Linked DNA regions of Homo sapiens. The protein of the gene in region 3 purifies or fractionates together with the protein of the main gene of each other region. This does not show direct contact. Each region holds a gene or a part of one and is shown on either strand. Other genes may lie near its edges.

Region 1 (3,747 bases), on a different chromosome or scaffold from region 3:
GACCTCGTGATCCACCCGCCTCGGCCTCCCAAAGTGCTGGGATTACAGGTGTGAGCCACCGTGCCCAGCCTCCCTTTCCTCATTCTTTAAAAATAACATAAATGTGTAGTTTAATTTTTCATTCAACTGCGGGAAAGACACTAGAAGAGATGAAAGTGCTATGGGTTCCAACTCCAAGCAGGGCTGTCCCAGCCAGAGCACTCCCAGAACCAGGTGGGTCCCTGGGGGTACAGGAGAGGCTCTGGTTCACAGGGCTCTGTGCAGCATTTCTGTGGGCACTTCTAGTGGAGGGGCTGGAGGGTCTGCCAGCCTGGAGGACTCCGCCCACCCAACAGCACCTGCAGCAAGAGGACCCTCTGTGGGCTTTGTGTTGGGTTATTCAGGCAGACAATCTGAAAATGGTCTGCAGAGATCCCTGAGTAAAGGCCTAAGTTTGGGCTCAATTTGAGAAGAATGGAGAACAAAGAAAAATTAGCCAAATAACATTCACAAGATAAAATAAGCATAAAGGCAAAGAGACTAATTAAATGCTGATTATAATACTCAAAAGCGAGGCTCAACGACCTGGCCAATGAGTAGTATCAACAGGCTTGGAAGTAAAGAAGCAGATTAAAGACGAAATGTTCCATTAACAAAAGCATCATGATCTAGCATCAGGCAGGCTGCTAGAAAACTCCACGGGAAAGGAAGGGCCAGGGAAATACTGACAAGAAAGAGGAAGGGTGAAAAATTAACCTTAAAAGATAATTAAATGTACCATGAAGATTTAAGAACTAAAATAGTTTGGTGCTGGAGAAGGAGAGAATGTCCATAAGTAGATCAGAAAACATGTGGGAATTCAGTGCATGGTAAAGGTGGCACTGCAAGCAGGGAAAATAACAAATATTCAAAAACAGCAGTGGGAAGATGTGGCTAACCGAGGCCCCCTTATTCTTCCCACCAAAATAAATTCCAGGAGCCTCAAAGAATTACAAGTAAAAAATGGAACCATGAAAGTTCTAGAAAAAAGAGATCAATACCTATAATTTTAGAGTGGGAAAGCCTTTCTAAGTAGGACCAAAACTCAGAAGCCATAAGGGAAAGGCCTAACAAATCTGACTACATGAAATTATATGCATCTGAATGAAAAACAAATAGAAAAACCATGACTATGAACAAAGTCAAAAGAAAAGCAACAACCTGGAGGAAGTATTTACAGTACATTTGACACACATTATTTCCTTTCTGTACATAAAAAAATCTAACAGAGAAATGGACAGTTTATAGGGAAAAATAAAAGTGACATATAAAATCGCCTATGAAGGGATGCTTTACCTAACTTAATGAAAGATCAATATATCATTTCTGACCTATGAGATTTGCCAAAGTTAAAAGTTTAATGGTGATGGCAGGTGATGGGGAAAGACACAAAAACTGTTGGTGGAAGCATAGATCAGGGCATTCTTTGCTCATAGTGACCCAAACAGATTCACATATCCCATTGCTAGAAATTTACCCCCACAGAGACTACCAAGAGTTCACCAAGATAGCATGGGCAAAGATGCTTGCTGCAGTGCTGATTCCAACAGCAAAATGCAGAAACAATGACGGTGTCCTTGAGCAAGAAACTGTTTACATAAACGACAGCACGTTCATAAAGTGGAATATTACACAGCTTTGCAAGGGAGCTGGGAGGAGTGAAGGGAGAGGCCCTGTTTCCATTTCATATCCATGGGTACTTGTAGAATCCGTCTACAACTTTAATTTTTGTTTAATGCTTTCTGGGTGGCAGATTTATAGGCCATTTTAGGTTAACTGAAGCAGTCTAGTCTACAAGGACTGAATTTTGGAAAAGAGTTAGCTAAAAAGACGTAGTGCTCTAAATTTAGCATAACTATCACTATAAAAAATGTTTGTACCCTATGCCCCAGCAATTCTACTGCTGGGATTTATCTGATCATAAACTTACTCCTACACAAAGATGCTAACCCCAGCACTGTGCTGGTAATAGCAAGAATAAGAAAAACAGCTAGAAGACCATCAACAGAAAACCAGTTCCATCAGTTATGCTGCATCCACAAGATGCAATTTTCTGCAGCTGCCTTAATGAGGTAGATCTTTATGTGCAGTATGGAAAGGTGGCCAAAAGAGACTAATCAGTGAAAAAAGTCAAGTACGACGTGATCTCAATTTGTATAAATTTTTGAAATGACATTCATATGTAATTCCCAGAAGGAACTTAGGAAAGTATTAACAGCAGTTACTACAGGTGAGGGGACTTGGGGGAAGGAACACATTTTCCATTTTACGTTTCTCTGTACTTCTAAACTTGCAGTTGTTACTTTTATTAAATAATTTTTCAAAAACTCTGAATTCTTTATGAGAACAAGAAAGGCTAAATTCACTACTTCAGATTTTACCTCCTTACTCACCCCTGTGCAAGAAGTAAACAAAGAATAAAAGGATCATTGGGGAAGTTATAGGAAAGGAAGGGACCCAGGGCCAGAGAGCGCCACCTGGGTGGACCGGACATGGTCCCAGCCCTCATCTCCACCCGCCAGTACTGTGTCTTGACTGGCTTCCAGCCTGACAGTTTCACTAGCTCCCCATCCCTCAGAAGACACCTGCACTCTGTTTCCTGGCTCTTCCCTCCTCCCCAGCCACCTCTTCCTGCCTTGGATGTATGCTCAACACCACCAAGCTAGAAGCTGACTCCCATGAGTAGATGCTATTTCTTGGCTTCGTGTCCTTACATGTTTTTCCTATACCAACATTCCTCCTGCCTCCCTTTCCTAATTGAAGACTCATTGTTGGCATCACTCTTACCAAGCCTTCTGACTCCCCCAGGCTTCACGAGGTCTCCTCTCCCTTCCTCCTCTGCCCTTATTCCTCCCTCATTTGCCTATAAACTCAAAGACACGCCTATACTGAAGGTTTGCAGGTTGGATCCTAGCCTCTTCTCATGTTTACAGCTGCAGAACCACTCCATTCCTTTGTGGCTACTGTTTCCTCCACGTGGCTTTTTCTGCTCTTCTGTCTTGTCTTTCTCTTTTTTCCTCTCTCTCTCTGTCTCCTCTCTTTCTTTCTTTCTTCTTTGAGACAGAGTCTATGTCACCCAGGCTGAAGTGTAGCAGTGCGATCATGGCTCACCGTAGCCTCAGCTCCCTGGGTTCAAGCTATCCTCCCATCTCAGCCTGCCCAGGTGCTGGGCTTGCAGACAGACATGAGGCACCGCGCCTGACCCGTGTCTTTCTTACCAGGGGGTTTCTTCCTATGCTTAGTGACCTTGGCCATCCACTCATATATTTAAGAATAAAACACTAAAAGGCTTAGTGGAAGCTCTGCAAATGAGTGATGCTTGTTCATTTTCTCAGAATTAATTGACTAGGCTTTTTTTTTTTCCAATGTCTTTTCTCTTAATTGGTCACGCACCATAGAGAGGGCACTTCCACTCTCTTTGGCTGCCAATCTAGAAGCCAGGTGGGGGAAGGCTCGGGTGGTGTCTCTCTTCAGACTGTGAACTTTCTCTTAATCCCTCTTTTCAGTATGGCTCCCCCTACCTACCCCTGCAGTGTGCCTGGTGTCCCACAGTCAAGGTACTCTCTGGCTTATTCCTTCCTAAGAATAAATCTCGGGAGAGTAACCTTTTAACCATCTGCCAAGTTGGAAGAAGGGTAGTCACCCGGCCGCTTGGAGGGGATGGGAGGTGGGACAGGACTGTGGGGACCTGCTTCTTAAACAGACTTCCAAGTAATCTTCCTGTTCTTA
Region 2 (3,747 bases), on a different chromosome or scaffold from region 3:
TACCATTTTTTTTTGAGTCGGGGTCTTGCTCTGTTGCCCAGGCTGGAGTGCAGTGGCATGGTCTCAGCTCACTGCAACTTCTGCCTCCCGGGTTCAAGGGATTCTCCTGCCTCAGCCTCCCGAGTAAATGGGACTACAGACACATGCTACCACACCTGGCTAATTTTTGCATTTTTAATAAGAGGCAGGGTTTCACTGTCTTGGCCAGGCTGGTCTTGAACTCCAGACCTCGTGATCCACCCGCCTTGGCCTCCCAAAGTGCTGGGATTACAGGTGTGAGCCACTGCACCCAGCCTGAAGAGACTCAAGGTCTAAGGAAGTTTTCCAGGAGTGGGTGATGTAGCAAATAAGGTAAATCATTCCCCCTCCCACTAGTTTTCCAAGTTTCTTTCAAAACCTAGCAGGCAGTTCACTATTCTTTCCTTATCTACCACTTTGGGTAGAATTGACAATTCCCTTCTTTGTCCTCCTAATGAATGTGTTATGTCCTATCCTAGCACCAATCATGTTTAAGTGTGTATCCCAAACATTTGGGACATTAGGCTCACCATTACAGGGGAGGAAACCCTCTTAGGTTCTTCAGCTGGTCTATAAACTAAATTGATACCAGTCAGGTTAACAGGAGAAAAAGTTTTAATTACGTATGTATGCACAAGAGTCCCACAAAATATGAGACTCAAAGAAGGGCCAGATGTTTGACACTTATATTACATCCTGACCTCAAAAAGGAAGTGGGGCCCGGCATGGTGGCACGGACCTGTAATCCCAGCTACTCAGGAGTCTGAGGCAGGAGGATCCTTGAGCTCAGGAGTTGGACGCCAGCCTGGGCAACACAGCAAGGCCAGTCTCTTCAAAACAAAAGTGGGGTTTGGGGCTTCCAGGAGTGGTGGAGACAAGTTAAGAGAGGATAAGAGGAAAAAATGTCTAAGGTGAATAAAGGTTGACTTTTATGCAGATAAAAGTATCTCAGATGATACAAGTTGACTAGCAGCAGCTCTCTTTCTGGTAAGATTCCTTTAATTACGAAAATTTCCTTTAGAAATGTAAATTTCTCTTTACAAAGGAAGAGTTATTCTTTATTTTAGGCAGTAGTGGGATAAGTGAAGCATTTTCCTGTGTTGGCTGGATCTTAATTTATTTTGCTAAAAGACATCAATATGCCAGAGTGGCGTATTTTGGGGTGGCATATTCTGGACTCCTTCAGTTATAATTTGGGGTAGTGTGTCCTGAGCCCCAACACAATGAAATCAATCAACGTTCACCCTAACTAAAGGGGCTTTCTTAAACATTCTAGAACCTCACATCATGCATAGACCATAAAAAATCCTTTACAATTCAACCCAAAGGATCGTAAACGCGGCTTCCTCCAGGCACTTTTAATTGTCCTTAGACAGATGGCCAAAGCCTGGTTATGGGAACCGCATATGCTAAGAGAAAGCTGACTACAGCGCCAAGAAAATGATGATTGGCTGCTGGGGCTCAGAAGTTGCATGTTCTCCTCTGGCCAAGGCAGGCTCTAGGAAACTGCTGAAGGTTCAGTTTTTGAAATACGGTTTTTGCATCGTAAAGAAAAAAGATCAACCTATCAGGAAGAACCGAGCACATCCAATCACCAATCAAGAGCGGGAAAGAAGCCAAAGCCTGGGGATACCCACGCACCAACGAGGACGTCATTCTCCAGCCCCCGCCAATGAGCAGCGGGACGGGGGGCGGGGCAATAGGCGGACCCACTGCCCTAGAAAAGAAACAAGCTGCGGTACAACTGTCCTCACCAGCCCTCGCCTCCCGAGTCACTGCAGCCAACCCTTCAGCAAGGTGCTGATTTAATGCTTTCCATACTCTCTGCGTGGGGCTAGTTACAGTGAAGTATCCCCTTCCCACTAGAGTAAGGCACTTCTTTCCAGTGTCTCCCCGAGAACCGCAGAAAGCACACTGGAACTTCGAGCTTTCTACCTTCACAGGAACCGGGAGCCGTGCGCTACCTGAGGGGGAGGGGCGGCCCTGGTACGCAGGCGCGCATGCTTTGTGGGGGCGAGGCTGTGGTGGCCCGAGGTAACCTGGGAGCTGTATTTCTTACGCCGGCAAAACCGCCCAGGCCGCTGAGGCCTTCGCGACTTCATTTCCCAGGAGCCTCCGCGACCATGGGGCGGGCCAGTGAGTTCGCTAATGAGCTCGAGGAAGCCACGGCGCGGCCCACCAGGTTCCAAAACAAGGAAATGAAGGAGGGAGGCGGGACTGGGGGTGCCTGCGGGAGCCGCCGCCGCCGTCGCGGAGGAGGAGGAGGAAGAGGTGGAGGAGGTGGCTGCTGTGGCCGCCGAGGAGTCCCTTGCTGAAGGCGGACCGCGGAGCGGCGGGCGGCGGGCGGCGCGCGCGCGCGCGCGAGAGGCGGCTGTTGGAGAAGTGGAGCGGCGGTCGCGGGGGGAGGAGGAGGAGGGACTGAGCGGCGGCGGCCCCCGCGTCCCGTGCCTCTATGGGGGAAGCAGACAATGGATTATGATTTCAAGGCGAAGCTGGCGGCGGAGCGGGAGCGGGTGGAGGATTTGTTTGAGTACGAAGGGTGCAAAGTGGGACGCGGCACCTACGGTCACGTCTACAAGGCGAGGCGGAAAGATGGGTAAGAGCAGGGGCGGGAGGAGTAGGCTCGCTCGGGTCCTCGCCCTGCCCGCGACCTGGCGGGATGGGTGGGTCGGATCCCAGTCGGGCCGTGCCCGAGGGGCGAGGCGGAGGGGGTCGCGGGGTTGCGTCCGGACACCGACTCCGAGGGGCGCCCGTTCCGCCCGCCTCCCCCGCGCGGCCCCGTCGCGTACCTCGAACTCCCGCGGCGCAGCCCGGTCCGAGGCGTCGGTCCCGTCCCAGAGGGGCGCCCTCCGAGTGCTCGGAGACGGCGGGGGGACTCGAGTTGGGACCGCGGTGGAGGAGGAGTTTGTGGGGTCTAGTCTCTTGGGGGAACGCAGCGGGCAGGCAGAGCTCCGCTGCGGAGTTGCCGCTCCGGCCCTGGGTAGTGACGGTCGTTGTGGAACTTCCAATCGGCTGAGCGCCTCGCGGGGGCGGCGGTTTGAAACCTCGCCGGGGAGCCTGTCGGGCGAACGCGGCCTGGGGTCCTCGCCAGCCCCACGGCTCTGACCCGCTGGGCACCGCCGCCCCCAGCAGCGATCTCCGCCCTTCGGGCTGGCCGGCCCGTTGGCTTCTCTATGCAGTCCTCCCATCCCTGTTGTATGCCCGGCGTCCCGGGTTTCTCATTCTCACATTCTGAATTGCGTACCTTCCCCCTTCGAAGGAGACCTGATGGGCTAGCTGCGTTTCGCAAGCGGCAACTTAAGAGTTGGCTGAATTCTCTGCTACCCACCCTTTACCTTGCAGCCCCTTGGGTATCTTGGGTATTATGTCCTCCACTCCATCCTCTGCCAGATGACTGTGGGCTGGGGCTTATGGAGTACCTATATTATCAAGAACGGAATACGAAGTGACAGAGCTGGGCCTGAACCTTTGTTTTCCTAGGAGTTGAGGGAGAACTGTAGGAACACCTTGGGAAGCCTTTACTGGTTGTCCTCTTAAGAAGAGCTGGATAATGTACTGAGAATACCTGTCCTTTCTTGGTCCTGGAGGGCAGACAGCAGCTACAGCAGGACTGGTGGAACCAGCTTCCTGGCAGGAATTACCCTCCCCCAAAGCTAGGGACCCAGGAAGATGCCCTGTCCAGCATAGACTTTAAAGAGAGTCAAACTCTACGGAAGAGGATTGTAACGG
Region 3 (3,747 bases):
CACCGGCTTACCTGGAGCCTGCCTGGAGTCATCGTCATCGTCTGCAGGCTGTGGTGCCAGGCCGTGCTGACCATGCCCCGTCCCCACAGACCTGACCCGCATGATCCACATCCTGGACACGGAGCACCCCTGGGACCTGCACTCGATCCCCTCAGAGCACCACGAGGCCATCACCTGCCTGGAGTGGGACCAGTCAGGTGAGGCGCTGGTCCCACGTGGCCAGGGGTGGCGACCCGGATCCCGGAGCAGGGGGGCCCTGTGTTTCTCCGGTCAGTCTGGAGTCCGGCGCTGGGTCTAGAGCCCCTGGTCTGCAGCTTTGCACCTGCTGCTCTTTCCATAGTGGCCCGAATCATTCTTGTTCAGGGTGTCTCAGGGCATCTCTGGAGTGCGCCTTGTGCCACCTGCTGTGCCCTACCTGGGCCGAGACCTCTCCACTGGGCTGGCTTCCCCCAGGCGCTGTGCCGTCCTGCAACGCAGTGCTCTGCCCATCCCTGGAAGGTTCGCAATGATGGCTTCTTGCCCTCAGGCTCCCGGCTCCTGTCAGCAGATGCCGACGGGCAGATCAAGTGCTGGAGCATGGCGGACCACCTGGCTAATAGCTGGGAGAGCTCAGTGGGCAGCCTAGTGGAGGGGGACCCCATTGTGGCCCTGTCCTGGCTGCACAATGGTGTGAAACTGGCCCTGCACGTGGAGAAGGTGAGTGTCCTGCCCGAGTGAGCGGATGAGGCAGATGAGATGTCACCCTACCCAGCCACCCGCCAGCCCCTCTCCTCTCCATCACCAGCATCCCCTGGTTTTTTGGACCTTGCACTTGGCTCCCACCTGCAGTCCGGCTGTCATTAGCACCTGTGTGTTCAGTGGCCTCTCATTTAACTGAGGGTGGCTGTTCACTTGGCCCCCACCTGCAGTCTGGCTGTCATTGGCACCTGCGTGTTCAGTGGCCCCTCATTTAACTGAGGGTGGCCGTTCTTAGTGAGTTATCTCTTTCACTGGAGGCTACTGTCCTTAGGTAGCTGCATGTATAACTGGTGGCTGCTGTCTTCTGAATGCAGCCCACCCTCTGATTTAGTAACATCCCAGAGCCCCTCTCTATGCTCCCTGTGATTCGGCCCCACAGGTAAGAGTAGGCGTGGCCAGGGTTGGGGGGGACAGTTAAGATAGGCGTGGCCAGGGTTGGGGGGGACAGTTAAGAGTAGGCGTGGCCAGGGTTGGGGACAGTTAAGAAGTAGGCGTGGCCAGGGTTGGGGACAGTTAAGAGTAGGCGTGGCCAGGGTTGGGGGGGACAGTTAAGAGTAGGCGTGGCCAGGGTTGGGGGGGCACCTGGGTTCAGGCTCTGACTCCTCACCTCTGTGTGTCAGTTTCCTCACTGACGGCAGGGTCTCGGGGATGTTCGTGGCAAAGGCCTCACAGCCACCCCAGCTTCGTGCCTCTGTGCGTCTGCTTGTGCTGGGGCTCTCGCAGGAACTAGGAGGCCTTCCTGGAGGGATGCAGTGGACAAGATCTTTTCTCTCGTCCCTTCGTGAGTCCCTCCCCAGGGACTGCCATTGTCGGCGCATTGCCGCAGTACACGCAGCACCGGCTTCGTGCCACGGGGGCCCTCCGGGGTGCACTCCCCACCCTGCGGTCCCCGTTTGTCTGTATTTCCTGTTTTTGGTAACAGTTTTGTCGGGATGGAGTTCACAGACCTTAGAACTCACCCATTGAGAGTGTGCAGCCCACACGGTCCAGAGGTTTCGTATACACTCGCCATGTTGTGCGGCCACCACCATAGCTAACCTCAGACCTTTATCTTTTTTTTTTTTTTTTTTTGGAGACAGAGTCTCGCTCTATCCCCCAGGCTGGAGTGCAGTGATGCGATCTTGGCTCACAGCAACCTCTGCCTCCTGGGTTCAAGCGATTCTCCTGCCTCAGCTTCCTGAGTAGCTGGGATTACAGGCACCCACCACCACACCTGGCTAATTTTTGTAATTTTTTAGTAGAGACGGGGTTTCACCATGTTGGCCAGGCTGGTCTCGAACTTCTCACCTCAGGTGATCCGTCTGCCTCAGCCTCCCAAAGTGCTGGGATTAGAGGTGTGAGCCAACGAGCCCGGCCAGACCTTTATCTTTTTTGTTTGTTTGTTTGTTTTTTGAGACAGGGTCTTGCTCTGTTGCCCAGGCTGGAGTGTAGTGGCGCGATCTCGGCTCACTGCAGCCTCTCCCTCCCGGGCTCAAGCGATTCTACTGCCTCAGCCTCCTGAATAGCTGGGATTACAGGCGCCCGCCACCACGCCCGGCTGCTTTTTTGTATTTTTAGTAGGGACCGGGTTTCTCCATGTTGGTCAGGGTGGTCTCGAACTCCTAACCTCAGGTGATCTGCCTGTCTTGGCCTCCCAAAGTGCTGGGATGACAGGCGTGAGTCACTGTGCCCAGCTTCAGTCCCTTCTCATCACCCGAAAAGGAAACCCAGTCCCCATCCTGCATCACCCTGATCCATCCCCCACCCCAGCCCCCGAGACCCAGTTGTCTCTCTGGATCTGCCTGTCCTGGACATTCATAGAAACAGGATCACACACTGCGTAGCCTTCTGTGTCTGGCATCTCTTACTGAGCGTGATGTCCTCAAGGTGCATCCCCGCTGTGGCCTGAGTCAGAGCCTCGCTTTTTAAAATAACCAAATACATTTTTTTTGAGACAGAGTCTTGTTCTGTCAACCGGGCTGGAGTGCAGTGGTGCGATCTCGGCTCACTGAAACTTCCACCTCCCAGGTTCAAGTGATTCTCCTGCCTCAGCCTCCCGAGTAGCTGGAATTACAGGCACGCACCACCGCGCCCGGCTAATTTTTGTATTTTTAGTAGAGACGGGGTTTCACTATCTTGGCCAGGATGGTGTCGAACTCCTGACCTTGAGATCTGCCCGCCTCGGCCTCCCAAAGTGCTGAGATTACAGGCGTGAGCCACCGCGTCCGGCCAAATTTTTGTTTTTTAATTACATTAATAAAAGGCACATGTGCTCCTTTAACATAGTCTCAGACATGCCAGCCTGCGACCCACACAGACGTGTGGTGTGGACACCAGATGAGTCGTCGCCATGGCAACCCCTCACCACCAGGCCTGGCTTGCTTCCTGGACTTCTGGACCTGCTTCTTGCTATAAGAAGTGTTTTTTTTTAACTTGTAACTTAGAATGGAGCCGTACGATACGTATGATACACTTCTCTTCCTCGCATTTTTTCACAACGTAGAGACATTTTTCTTGTTCTTTTTTTTTTTGTTTTTGAGACAAAGTTTTGCTCTCGTTGCCCAGGCCAGAGTGTAATGGTGTGATCTCGGCTCACTGCAATCACCACCTCCTGGATTCCAGCAATTCTCCTGCCTCAGCCTCCTGAGTAGCTGGGATTATAGGCACCCGCTACCATGCCCGGCTAATTTTTTTGTATTTTTTATTAGCAACAGGCTTTTACTGTGTTGGCCAGGCTGGTCTTGAACTGCTGACCTCAGGGGATCCACCTGCCTCAGCCCCCCAAAGTGCTGGGATTATAGGCGAGAGCCACCGTGCGCAGCCAAGACCCCATCTTTTAAAAGACTCACGTTGAAAGAAGGGTGGATGTTTCCGTATGTCAATAATGACTTGACAAATTTGATTTGAAATCAAATAGTGCCCGCAGCAGCCGCTGGTGCTTACACAGCACTTCCTGAGTGCTATAGCTCAGGTCTGCACAGTGCGGCCCAGGGCCTGACGGCCCCCGCCTGGGTTTGTGAGTGTGGCTCA

What was found.
Region 1: the proteins of MED16 (region 3) and MED9 purify together in Homo sapiens (affinity purification with mass spectrometry; 5 studies listed by BioGRID and IntAct, with this or other methods). This does not show direct contact.
Region 2: the proteins of MED16 (region 3) and CDK19 purify together in Homo sapiens (affinity purification with mass spectrometry; 8 studies listed by BioGRID and IntAct, with this or other methods). This does not show direct contact.

What each region holds. Positions count from the first base shown.
Region 1 is NC_000017.11:17,479,980-17,483,726, reverse strand, and holds part of MED9 (mediator of RNA polymerase II transcription subunit 9), read right to left. Parts: intron 1-3,747.
Region 2 is NC_000006.12:110,813,876-110,817,622, reverse strand, and holds the start of CDK19 (cyclin-dependent kinase 19), read left to right. Parts: upstream 1-2,153; 5' UTR 2,154-2,486; coding exon 2,487-2,614; intron 2,615-2,807; exon of another isoform or gene 2,808-3,006; intron 3,007-3,747.
Region 3 is NC_000019.10:886,587-890,333, reverse strand, and holds part of MED16 (mediator of RNA polymerase II transcription subunit 16), read left to right. Parts: intron 1-89; coding exon 90-197; intron 198-526; coding exon 527-696; intron 697-3,747. UniProt on the Homo sapiens protein: Component of the Mediator complex, a coactivator involved in the regulated transcription of nearly all RNA polymerase II-dependent genes.